Regions from separate parts of the Homo sapiens genome. Here regions 1, 2 and 4 are each reported to be linked to region 3. Evidence: microRNA targets listed by miRTarBase, many of them from high-throughput screens and not tested one by one. Region 3 holds a microRNA gene; each other region holds the end of a gene's coding sequence.

Region 1 (3,137 bases), not on the chromosome of region 3:
GGAACTATTTTTAAAGTGCTGTGGCACAGTGCACATATAGCTGAGTTAGAAGCACATAAAAGGAGCAAATAAATGTATATTTTTAAAAACTGAGAGCAGGACAGTATAGTATAATTCAAATGAAGGATCTCTATGAAAAACAATCTGGGCAATCCCCCAGAGAGAAAGATTTTTCTATGAACATACTCTCCATAGAAAGATTTAACACTGCAATCTGGGATTGAGGATTTTGCTATGCTTTGGGCCCATAATTCCCAGCTGAGCAGGTGGTCCTAGGTTGTTAATATGGTCTGCAGTACACAGTTTCTGCTGAGACTGCTTTTTTGTCTTTGCTTTTGTCATAATTTTGAAATACTAAGCTCTCTGCAGTAGAGTCTTCCTCCAATCATGACAGCCCTAAGAAATAATTTTCCATGATTTGGTATCTCCCTGAGCCTAGAAAACATCCTTGAAATGTTTGCTGTGTCCCCTTCCTAAGTACACACCATGACTCATCTAGAAAAAAAGAACTTCAGAAATCTAGAGTAAGCAATCAGAAGACATGACCTTTCCAGAAGGCTCTATCAGGAAGCCCAAGGGTTACTCATATTTGCAAGCGTGAGAAGGTCAATGTTGGTGGGTCAGTTTTCTACCTGCATTCAAGGTTATCCACTGGTAACAGTTCATTTTAACTAGCAATAGCTGTTATCCATTGCTCAGATAACTCATCTGCTGTCCCTGCTCCCAGATGGTACAGCTGCTCTCTTCTCTGGATTTTTGCAGCACTTTGTTCAAACCTATAGCGAGGCCCTAAATGGGCTGTATTTTAACTGTTATGTTTACGTATTCTCCCCTACTAGACTGTACATGTCTTGAAGGCAGAAGCCACACTTTTGGGTTTTTTTTTTTAATTGAGATAGGGTCTTGCTATGTTGCCCATGCTGGTCTCAAATTCTTGAGCTCAAGCAATCGCCCACCTCGCCTTCCGAAAGTGCTGGGATTATAGGCATGAACCACCACGCCCAGCCAACAATATTGTTTATATTCCCAACAACAAGACATTGGCTGGCACATAGAAGGGGAGGGAGGAAGGGAGGAAGAGGATAACTCAAGTCTTAATCAGGTGTCTAATGAGTTAAATTGTATTAAAATAACAGAACAAAGTGGTTCTTAAAAGTTTTTCACTGTTGGGAGGCCAAGGCGGGCGGATCACCAGGTCAGGAGATCGAGATCATCCTAACACGGTGAAACTCCGTCTCTACTAAAAATACAAAAAATTAGCCGGGCGTGGTGGCGGGCGCCTGTAGTCCCAGCTACTCGGGAGGCTGAGGCAGGAGAATGGCATGAACTCGGGAGGCGGAGTCTGCAGTGAGCCGAGATCGCACCACTGCACTCCAGCCTGGGTAACAGAGCGAGACTCCATCTCAAAAAAAAAAAAAAAAAAACAGAAAAGAAAAAAAAAAAGTTTTTCACTGAAATAAACCTCACTGTCAACTTACCACTACCAAAATGATACCTTACCTGAACTAACAGAACTGTTTTTGAGGCAGTATCAAAGGAAAGGATTTAGGTAACATATTATAAGTAAATGACTAATTCATGTCAGAAAAGGAAGTATAGTCACTTCCACATTATTGCATCCACTTTGCACATAGATGCTCTAACTCTTATACTAGATTTCTGCTGGTTAGTATAAAAATGACAGCTTTCCAAGTGGTGACAGGAAGAGGTTGGTCCTAGGATATCCTTCCCCCAAATAGGATGAGATCTCCTAAGGTTCTCTTTTCTCTACCACCCAGAACATTACATTTTGCAATGCAAAGGCAAAGATTGCATGCATTCATCAGTAAGCTACATGGGATACCGGAAGGAGTACGGGGCCAAGAACACCGCTAGACTAGGGCACTTCACTGCAAACACTTAACTATGTGGCCAGGGAAGGCCAATGGATTGTTCTAGGCCTCTGTTGTCTCATATATAAAGTAACAGTGTTGACATACGGTATGGAAAACAGCCATATATTTATTAAAGCTTTAGAACTCTGCTTGGGAGGGAGCGATTTAGGGGAGGGCGTACCATATGTGATGAAGGCCAAGCAGAGAGGGCTTTTCAATTTCTGTCCATCAAAAAAAACTCCAATTCTACTTCTGCTTTATATACCAAGATTCTTTTTGTAAGAGTTTGTTTGGGAGAAGGGAGAAAGAACTCTACTGCTAAAAAAGTGAAAATGGCAAATGAACCAAGCAGCATCCCATCTTATATTTTAAAGTCTTCTCCCAAGTTAACCCAATTTCCCCATTTATTTCTACTTTAAGGCACATATTAGCAAATGCCCACAGTCATTCATCCAACATACACTGGATGCTATCAAATTTAAGTGCTATGAAAACAATGGTCCAGCATTAAAAGTCATCTGAGATCAAAATCAGAAAAAAATTAACTAACAAATCTAAAGGCAAAACCTACCATTTATGTCTCTTCCAAAATCTCCGAGTTATTTTCGTGGAGTTATTGGTACAGAAATTATTGTACTAGCTACAAACATTAATTTTCTATTACCTTAATGATTTGAAGAACAGAAAGACAAGGCAATGACCAAGAGCAGTAGCACTGATGAATTATGATGATATTAATGCATACTTTGCAGACCAATGGAAAATTCTGCAAATGTCAATAGCAGTATGGGAGCCTGGCCAACCATGATCAAAACCAGTCCCATCCAATTTCTCTTCCTAAAATCAACATTATAGGACAAGGACTATGATCATCACTTACATTCTTTTAGTCTCCTACTCCTCAATTAAGTAAATGAGAATGATTCAGCCAACAAAGTTCATGACAACAAGGTGCAGGATGGTGCTGGCAAAGAGAAAATCAGCAAAGGCTCGCTCTGGGGAGATGCCTTGGAAATCCGCTTTGTTCTGTGGGTTGATCTGTATTCTCAGGCAAACTGCACAAGAAGCAAAACACAAAAAAATGATTATATAGAAGTATAAAATAAATATGCTAATGAACACAGACATACCCGAGGACCCAACAATTCTACTCTAACAGAAATGAATGCATATATACATCAAAGGGCATACACAGAAATGATACCCAGATAGCCCCAAACTGGAAACAATCTAATGTCTATCAACAGTAAAATGGATAAATTA
Region 2 (3,150 bases), not on the chromosome of region 3:
ATAAATAAATAAATAAATAATTTTTTAAAAAAGAGAATACAGTACATGGAGATAATAAAATGTCTGAGTCTTATTTTTAAAAAGCTTTAAATGACTTTGCCATTTTAAAAAAACTTTGTGGCCGGGTGCAGTAGCTCACGCCTATAATCCCAACACCCTGGGAGGCCAAGGCCGGCAGATCATTTAAGGTCAGGAGTTCAAGACCAGCCTGGGAAACATGGTGAAACCGTCTCCACTAAAAAATACAAAAATTAGCCGATGTGGTGGTGCGCGCTGATACTCTCCAGCTACTTGAGAGGCTGAAGCAGGAGAATCACTTGAACCTGGGAGGCGGAGGTTGCAGTGAGCCGAGATTGTGCCACTGCACTCCAGCCTGGACAACAGAGTTGAGACTCTGTCTCAAAAAAACAAAAAACAAAACGAAACAACAAAAAAAAGTTTTTTGTTTTTTGTTTTTTTTTTGAGGTGGAATCTTCCTCTGTCGCCAGGCTGGAATACAGTGATGTGATGTCTGCTCACTGCAACCTCCGCCTCCTGGGTTCAAGTGATTCTCCTGCCTCAGCCTCCCGAGTAGCTGGGACTACAGGCGCACGCCACCACACCCAGCTAATTTTTGTATTTTTAGTAGAGACAGGGTTTCACCATGTTGGCCAGGATGGTCTCAATCTCTTGACCCCGTGATCTGCCTGCCTCAGCCTCCCAAAGTGCTGGGATTGCAGGCATGAGCCAGCGTGCCCAGCCAAAAAAAAAAAAAAAACTTTGTTATTTAAAAAGCTACATTGGTACACTGGCCAGGGACAGTGGCTCACGCCTGTAATGCCAGCACTTAGGAAGGCTGAGGCAGGCAGATCACCTGAGGTTGGGAGTTTGAGGCCAGCCTCATCAACACGGAGAAACCCCGTTTCTACTAAAAATACAAAATTAGCCAGGTGTGGTGGTGCATGCCTGTAATCCCAGCTACTCAGGAGGCTGAGGCAGGAGAATTGCTTGAACGTGGGAGGCAGAGGATGCGGTGAGCTGAGATCGCGTCATTGCACTCCAGCCTGGGCAACAAAAGCGAAACTCCGTCTCAAGAAAAGAAAAAAAAAAAAGGTATATAACTATATACAAACTACTTATGCTCTTGGCAAATACCTCATCTGTAAGTGGAAAGATACTGCTTACCTTGTGTGAGAGCACAACCTGGCTCCTCATGAGTAGAGGCTGATATGAATCCTTCATCACTCTATACCCAGTGTCTGATTGAAAGCAGGTGCTCAAAACAGATTTATTAAACAAATTAATACCCATATATATACTTATGTAGAGAACTAATTACTGAGGTCCCTTGTTGACCTGAGGAAACAAAGTTAATAGCACTATCACTGGAAGTTTAATGCCAGAGGGTTGTTGGTATGTAGTGAAAGGAGGACAGGAGATCAATGACTGGTTAAAAGAAAACTGAATTTTGCTTATATTTGTTAAAGTCTGTTTCTTCATAGAAATAGATATTTTAGATATCTTCATAGATATTTTTAAGACATGAAATGCTGTAACACTTTACTATGTCTATGCAAATACACATTTAAACAATATAGGAAGATTTCAATAACCAAACTAACTGTACAAAAAATAAACAAATTAACTTTATTACATTGCTACTTCAACTTCAGTCCTTACATTGATTTGTTTTTTAAAAAATACCAGTTTGAAACACATTACTGAAAGTGAGTGTACACAATAAATAGAAAATAGGGATGCATAGTGCTGGAGACATTCAACCAACTTATCTTCATCTGTTGCCTACTGTTGTAGACAAAATTTGACACACAATTAGCATTACTGAAAGAGCAGCCAAACTACCTCGGAGAAAGTGGCAAACTACTGGAAAAGTAGCTTAAAGCTCTGGACCACTCACCAAAAAAAAAAAAAAAAAGAAGAAAATACACTGTTTATCTGGGAGCTAGCCTCATTATGGCAATGAATTTATCTACTAGTCATAAGAACAATTTTTAAAATATCAAAAGTCCCAGGGAACCTTCACTAACAGTTTTTGTTTTTGTTTTTGGAGACAGAGTCTCCCTCTGTTGCCCAGGCTGGAGTGCAGCAGGGCGATCTTGGCTAACTGCAACCTCCGCCTCCCGGGTTCAAGCGATTCTTGTGCCTCAGCCTCCCAAGTAACTGGGATTACAGGTGTGTGCCACCACGCCCAGCTAATTTTTGTATTTTTAGTAGAGATGGGGTTTCGCCATGTTGACCAGGCTGGTCTAGAACTCCTGACCTCAACTGATCTGCCCACCTCAGCTTCCCCAAGTGCTGGGATTACAGGTGTGAGCCACTGTGCCCAGCCCAAAGTTTTTACTTTAAATATATGATTACTCAAATATCCTAAGCCATACGGCAGGCCCTATAACAATAAGTTACAAATAGTCTGAATTTAATAACTTAAGTGTGATATGGTTAATATAATACATACTGTGTGAATATCTTAACTAACCTCTTTCAGGTAAGGTGATAATTAAAAGGTTTAAATTTACAGTTTCAACTTCTGCTCAGAAGAATCATGCCAGTATTCTAGCAATGGTGATGACATCCCATTATTGTAATGCAGAACATGATAATGTCCATATTATTTTGAATTATACTTGAAGAAATAATTCTATGTACAAGTGAGTCTATATTCTATGTGCAAATTTTCAATGGTGCAGGTTTATAACCAAAGCTGCGTTTAACAAATGCTTTCTGGCTTCTGAAAACATGTCATGAAAATACTTCCTAAAAGTGAACAAACTAAAGTCAGAAGCAGGTGGCACCAGTTCTTTTTTGCCTTTATGTGTGATGGACTTCATGAAGCATTAACTCCCGAGGTATATTTGTTTCTGGACCATACAGCTTACATGCTCTTCTTTCAAAGGCAGCTACCATCTGCTTCACAACTTCATCAAAAAAGAGTGTGGCAAGCTGGGAATGTAGAAGTGATCGAAATTCAAAAGAAATCTGTAGGAAAATATTGAAAATTATTTTAGAAAAAATTATTTTTTGCTTTTTTTTTTTTTTTGGTTTTCCTGGAGAGGGACTCTCGCTTTGTTGCCCAGGTTGGAGTGCAGTGGCACAATTGCGGCTCACTGCAGCCTCAACCTCCTGGACTCAAGCAATCCTCCCACCTCTGTC
Region 3 (3,150 bases):
TGGAGAAACAACTCTTTATCCCGGCTTGCAGCCACGAGGTCTTGATTGGGGGAGGGGTGGTGAAGAATAGTCTGTGGGCTGCTTTTTTTTTTTCCTTTTACTGGAGCTGTACAGTGGAGTCGGTGATTGCTGCTGATCATAATCAAGTATTTTAGGAGCTTATTTAGACATGTATCTGATAGCTAAGGATTTTTCAACTTTATTCTCTTACGTATTTTTCAACTGTAAATTATTGGGCTTTTAAATCCTGCTAGTATTGCTCGACTCTTACTCTCACAAATGGATGGAATTAATTGCTGTTAGGAGGTTGGAAAATAGCAAATATAGATTTGGACGGTGGTAGTAATTTTGAGCAAATAATGTTTTATCTTTTTTTTCCTTATTTTTCCCTATTCCAGTCATACACGTGGACCTAACTGCACCAGTAGCTTTTCTGAGAATACTTGCTGAAAAGGAAGTTTTCTGGAATGGGTAAGTGTATTCTGATTTTCTTGAACTTTTCTTAAAAACAAATTTTTCTTGCTATTAAAGTTGAATAAATAGGATTGGTTTCTTAGAGAGTAAAAGTAGGTGTTTCTTTCTTTAGACAATGTACCTTTTCTGAAAAACTAACTCATTAAGTACGGATTTGCTAATTTTAAGGTAGTAAAATTACAGTGTAAATATTCCTGTACATTTTTGGAAACTGGCTTATGCAGTTTACGAAATATAATTTTAGACCCTCTTTTAAGTTGGGTGATAAAGTAGATATAACCTGAGATGATAGATTTAAACAGGATATTTACGTTCTGCTACAATTGACTGATAACACTTGAAGTGTAGTCTGAACAGTAATTTTGTTAATCATTTCAACAAGTATTTGCTAAGTGGAAGCCAGAAGAGGAGGAAAATGTTTTGCCACGTGGATGTGAAGATTTCCTCTAAAAGGTACACATGGACTAAATTGCCTTTAAATGTTCCAAAATTAGTTCTCATTTATTTGCAGTCTCATTTTGTTTTGTTTTTTTTCTCTATGTGTCAATCCATTTGGGAGAGGCCAGCCATTGGAAGAGCCACCACTTCCAGTGCTAGTTGGATGGTTGGTTATGATTGCCTTCTGTAAAGAATTCTTAAGGCATAAATACGTGTCTAAATGGACCTCATATCTTTGAGATAATTAAACTAATTTTTTCTTCCCCATTAGGGATTATGCTGAATTTGTATGGTTTATAGTTGTTAGAGTTTGAGGTGTTAATTCTAATTATCTATTTCAAATTTAGCAGGAAAAAAGAGAACATCACCTTGTAAAACTGAAGATTGTGACCAGTCAGAATAATGTCAAAGTGCTTACAGTGCAGGTAGTGATATGTGCATCTACTGCAGTGAAGGCACTTGTAGCATTATGGTGACAGCTGCCTCGGGAAGCCAAGTTGGGCTTTAAAGTGCAGGGCCTGCTGATGTTGAGTGCTTTTTGTTCTAAGGTGCATCTAGTGCAGATAGTGAAGTAGATTAGCATCTACTGCCCTAAGTGCTCCTTCTGGCATAAGAAGTTATGTATTCATCCAATAATTCAAGCCAAGCAAGTATATAGGTGTTTTAATAGTTTTTGTTTGCAGTCCTCTGTTAGTTTTGCATAGTTGCACTACAAGAAGAATGTAGTTGTGCAAATCTATGCAAAACTGATGGTGGCCTGCTATTTCCTTCAAATGAATGATTTTTACTAATTTTGTGTACTTTTATTGTGTCGATGTAGAATCTGCCTGGTCTATCTGATGTGACAGCTTCTGTAGCACTAAAGTGCTTATAGTGCAGGTAGTGTTTAGTTATCTACTGCATTATGAGCACTTAAAGTACTGCTAGCTGTAGAACTCCAGCTTCGGCCTGTCGCCCAATCAAACTGTCCTGTTACTGAACACTGTTCTATGGTTAGTTTTGCAGGTTTGCATCCAGCTGTGTGATATTCTGCTGTGCAAATCCATGCAAAACTGACTGTGGTAGTGAAAAGTCTGTAGAAAAGTAAGGGAAACTCAAACCCCTTTCTACACAGGTTGGGATCGGTTGCAATGCTGTGTTTCTGTATGGTATTGCACTTGTCCCGGCCTGTTGAGTTTGGTGGGGATTGTGACCAGAAGATTTTGAAAATTAAATATTACTGAAGATTTCGACTTCCACTGTTAAATGTACAAGATACATGAAATATTAAAGAAAATGTGTAACTTTTTGTGTAAATACATCTTGTCTTGTTTTCATTCAAAAACATTTCACTTTTGGGGTTGCGTGTCAGATTTGGCAGTATAAATTCTGGCTATATTTTTTGTTGTTAGATTTATTTGGCTGTTAAGTATTGCGATATGACTAAACATACTGTATACCTGATGATCATCTGTAAAGTTAGAGTATATCTTTTTGCTTTCTTTGGAGTTAGTGTTATTCCAGGATATTTTACTTAATCTAAAAGTTAATTTATGTTGCTCATATATTACTCAAGTATTTAAATTTAGAGAGAATGCCGCTCTGTTTAAAGCAATGTGTAAAGATGAGTTTTTTTAAGCATGGAATTTAGGGTTGGGGTACAATTTGTTTCTATTAAGCAAGTACCAGTTTACCAATACATGAGTAACTGAAGTGTAACTGTTAAATGCTTGTATACTAGTTTTTCTTTCTGATTGTCAGTGATTTATAAGCTATAAATGACCAAGGTCCTCAGACTGCTTTTAGCATCTGCAACTTAAAAAAATGGGAGTTAGAAAAAGAACAAATGCTAAATAGAGTAACAGTTAAATGTATGTGTACACTCTTCCCAAATGCCAAGAGTGCAGCGGTGGGGTGAGATTCAGATATTCATTTATTTCTAAGTCTGTAGTTAACATTTATGTTCCCTACTCCCTACGTAAGCCAGACTTTGGCAACAGTGATAGTTGATTCCAGGCTTATTTGACTTAAAGTCACTGAAGTGGAAACTAAGAAGTGGCAGTTAGTGTTTTACCCAGCATTTCTGCCTTCTCTCTTTTCTTCATGTGTTTTTGTCTCTAGCCTATGTGTATTTGTGTAGAATAATGTGGGATACCTGAATAATAGATTTAAAAGGACCAAGTGGTAAAATTGGGCCCAAGCTGAAGTACAGGCAAACTTGATGTTTGAAAGATAAGTTTTGAGAAATGTCATTGTATT
Region 4 (3,148 bases), not on the chromosome of region 3:
CCGGGAGGCGGAGGTTGCAGTAAGTGGAGATCCCATGCTATTGCACTCTAGCCTGGGTGACAGAGCGAGACCCTGTCTCAAAAGTAAGTAAATAAATAAAATAAATAAATAAATAAATAAATAAAAATTAGCAGCCGGGACAGAGATTGTTTTTTTTCAATTCCAAATGTTATTAATTAATGAGATTTACTATTGCATAGAATGGTTGCGATATATTCAGATCTTGGAGAGATTTTAAAATGGGAGCATGTTAACATTCTCTCCTGCCACAAGGTATGATTATGGTCTTAACTGACTCTAACTGTTTCTAATTGCTTCTCCATCATCTTCCAAGATGCCAACGTCCGGCGGTACCTCCAGCTGACACAGTCAGAACTCAGCAGCTACCATAGAAAAGAGAAGCAGCTCTACCTGGGCATGTTTGGTTAACAAAGAAGAAAGATGCTCCTCCAGTTGAACTTAGGTGGACCATTAAACATGCATGAAGGAGAAATCTGAGCCTCAGCAAGAGAAATTAACCCTATACCTCTGACCCAGGTGGATTTTTGTTTCTAGTTCTGCACAAACTTCACTACTTAGACAGTCTGAGTCTTTTTCTGTCTATCCATCTGTTTATTTCTATACCTTTCAATACATGTTATTGTTGCAGATATTTGGCTTGAGAAATATAATCAGAAAACATACATCAGTTGTGGGTGGAATTAATCATATCTCTGGTATAGATTTTTCATGACAGTGTTGTTAGATGTACTTATATACAGAGGCGACAGCTTGCAGAGGACGACATAGTAAGGATAGGCAGAAAGAATTGTCTTCCTTTATTTTTTCAGAAGCCCAAACCAAAGTGGGAAATATGGCCGGGCGCTCTAGCTCATGCCTGTAATCCCAGCACATTGGGAGGCTGAGGCCAGCGGATCACCTGAGGTCAGGAGTTCAAGACCAGCCTGACCAACAGGGTAAAACCCTGTCTCTACTAAAAATACAAAAATTAGCCTGGCAAGATGACACACGCCTGTGGTCTCAGGTACTGGAAACTAGACAATTATAAATGAGCCAGGCTGGGCATGGTGGCTCACGCCTGTAATCCCAGCACTTTGGAAGGCAGAGGTAGACAGATAGATAGCTTGAGTCCAGGAGTTCAAGACCAGCCTGGGGAACACAGTGAAACCCTGTCTCTATAAAAGATGCAAAGATGGCCGGGCACGGTGGGTCAGGCCTGTAATCCCAGCACTTTGGGAGGCCGAGGCAGGTAGATCATGAGGTCAGGAGATTGAGACCATCCTGGCTAACACAGTGAAACCCCGTCTCTACTAAAAATACAAAAAATTAGCCGGGCGTGGTGGTGGGCGCCTGTAGTCCCAGCTACTCGGGAGGCTGAGGCAGGAGAATGGCATGAACCCGGGAGGTGGAGCTTGCAGTGAGCAGAGATCACGCCACTGCACTCCAGCCTGGGCAACAGAGCGAGACTCCGTCTCAAAAAAAAAAAAAAATGCAAAGATTAGCTGGGCCAGGTGTTCACCTGTAGTCCCAGCTATTCTGGAGGCTAAGGTGGGAGGATTGCTTGAATCTGGAGGGCAGCGGTTGCAGTGAGCCAAGATCCTGACACAGCACTCCAGCCTGGGTGACAGAGTGACGTGTCTCAATAAATAAATAAGCCCAAATATACTAAAGTAACTTTTTGTTTTTTGAGACAGAGTCTCACTCTGTTGCCCAGTCTGGAGTGCAGTGGTGCCATCTTGGCTCACTGCAACCTCTGCCTCCCAGGTTCAAGTGATTCTCGTGTCTGAGCCACCCAAGCAGCTGGGATTACAGGCATGTGCCACCACGCCCGGCTAATTTTTTTGTATTTCCTTTTTAGTAGAGACATGGTTTTGCCATGTTGGCCAGGGTGCTCTTGAACTCCTGGCCTCAAGTGATCCACCCACTCGGGCTCCCAAAGTGCTGGGATTACAGGTGTGAGCCACTATGCCTGGCCAAAAGTAACCATTTTGTTTAATTTTTTCTTTTTCTTTTAATTTTAAGTTCCAGGATCCATGTGCAGGATATGCAGGTTTGTTACATAGGGAAACGTGTGCCTCGGTGGTTTGCTGCACCTATCAACACATCACCTCGGTATTAAGTCCAGCATGTATTAGCTATTTTTCCTCATGTTCTCCCACCCCCCGCCACAGCCCCTGTTAAATTAATTTCTTATTCTCCTTAATATTCCATACACATTCAGATTCCTTCTCCCCTACAAAAATATTTGCTATTTTGTCCTTGCTATTTCTCATACTTAGATCATTCATACACTATATTTATTTTTTCATTAAACTATTTTAAAACCTTTGGAGTAAAGCATTTAAGTATTTATTTAATAAACCCTTCAGACCTCATGCTAAAGAAAACACCTAAGTGAACATTTTAAATTTTAATAGGTGCTTATCTATAGTATCCTCATTTCTCTTAAAAAAAAAAAAAAAAAAAAAAAAAAAAAAAAAGACCATCCTGGCTAACACGGTGAAACTCCGTCTCTACTAAAAATACAAAAAAAAAAAATTAGCTGGGCTTGGTAGCGTGTGCCTGTAGTCCCAGCTACTCGGGAGGCTGAGGCAGGAGAATGGCGTGAACTCAGGAGGTGGAGCTTGCAGTGAGCCGAGATCACGCCACTGCACTCCAGCCTGGGTGACAGAGAGAGACTCCATCTCAAAAAAAAGAAAAGATTATCACATCTTCTAAAAACATACATACTAGCCGGGTACGGTGGCTCATGCCTGTAATCCCAACACATTGGGAGTCTGAGGCGGGTGGATCACTTGAGGTCCGGAGTTCAAGACCAGCCTGGCCAACATGGCGAAACCCCATCTCTACTAAACTGCTGGGGAGGCTGAGGCGGGAGGATCACTTGAACCTAGAAGCCGGAGGTTGCGGTGATCTGAGATTGCGCCACTGCACTCCAGCCTGCGGCAGTGAGACTGTCTCAAAAAAAAAAAAAAGAAACATACATAATAGAGCAGAATAAAAACAAACCTGTCCTTTACCTGTCATCTCATATTTTGCAAGGGCTGAGGTCCTCACAGAGAAGAGAAATAGGCTGGGCGCTGTGGCTCATGCTTGTAATCCCAGCACTTTGGGAGGCTGGATCACCTGAGGTCAGGAGTTTGAGACC

The links. The annotated mature microRNA hsa-miR-19b-3p reads UGUGCAAAUCCAUGCAAAACUGA and lies in region 3 at 1,946-1,968, shown strand. An mRNA with a match to its seed (bases 2 to 7 or 8) in the 3' UTR can be bound and repressed. Matches are read on the target gene's strand: a 7mer-m8 pairs with bases 2 to 8, a 7mer-A1 pairs with bases 2 to 7 and ends in A, and an 8mer does both.
Region 1: the mRNA of DAD1 is a reported target of hsa-miR-19b-3p. The part of its 3' UTR that is shown has no 7-base or 8-base seed match.
Region 2: miRTarBase lists COQ10B as a target of hsa-miR-19b-3p. Seed matches in the 3' UTR shown: 8mer at 2,665-2,672.
Region 4: miRTarBase lists TTC9C as a target of hsa-miR-19b-3p. The part of its 3' UTR that is shown has no 7-base or 8-base seed match.

What each region holds. Positions count from the first base shown.
Region 1 is chr14:22,572,305-22,575,441 of GRCh38, forward strand. DAD1 (defender against cell death 1) reads right to left here. Exons shown (of 3, transcript NM_001344.4): 2 at 2,755-2,929. The coding sequence ends at 2,799. Among named protein-coding and RNA genes, the nearest start is that of DAD1, 15 kb to the right of the region's middle.
Region 2 is chr2:197,473,583-197,476,732 of GRCh38, reverse strand. It overlaps COQ10B (coenzyme Q10B), which reads right to left. Exons shown (of 5, transcript NM_025147.5): 5 at 1,423-2,976. The coding sequence ends at 2,809. Among named protein-coding and RNA genes, the nearest start is that of SNORA105B, 12 kb to the left of the region's middle.
Region 3 is chr13:91,349,300-91,352,449 of GRCh38, forward strand. It overlaps MIR19B1 (microRNA 19b-1), which reads left to right and starts at 1,893; the gene lies at 1,893-1,979. It overlaps MIR17HG (miR-17-92a-1 cluster host gene), which reads left to right. Exons shown (of 3, transcript NR_197388.1): 2 at 399-471; 3 at 857-3,150. MIR17 (microRNA 17) reads left to right here and starts at 1,306; the gene lies at 1,306-1,389. MIR18A (microRNA 18a) reads left to right here and starts at 1,452; the gene lies at 1,452-1,522. It also overlaps MIR19A, MIR20A and MIR92A1. RefSeq lists an enhancer at 1-521.
Region 4 is chr11:62,737,954-62,741,101 of GRCh38, forward strand. It overlaps TTC9C (tetratricopeptide repeat domain 9C), which reads left to right. Exons shown (of 3, transcript NM_173810.4): 3 at 335-683. The coding sequence ends at 429. Among named protein-coding and RNA genes, the nearest start is that of TTC9C, 11 kb to the left of the region's middle.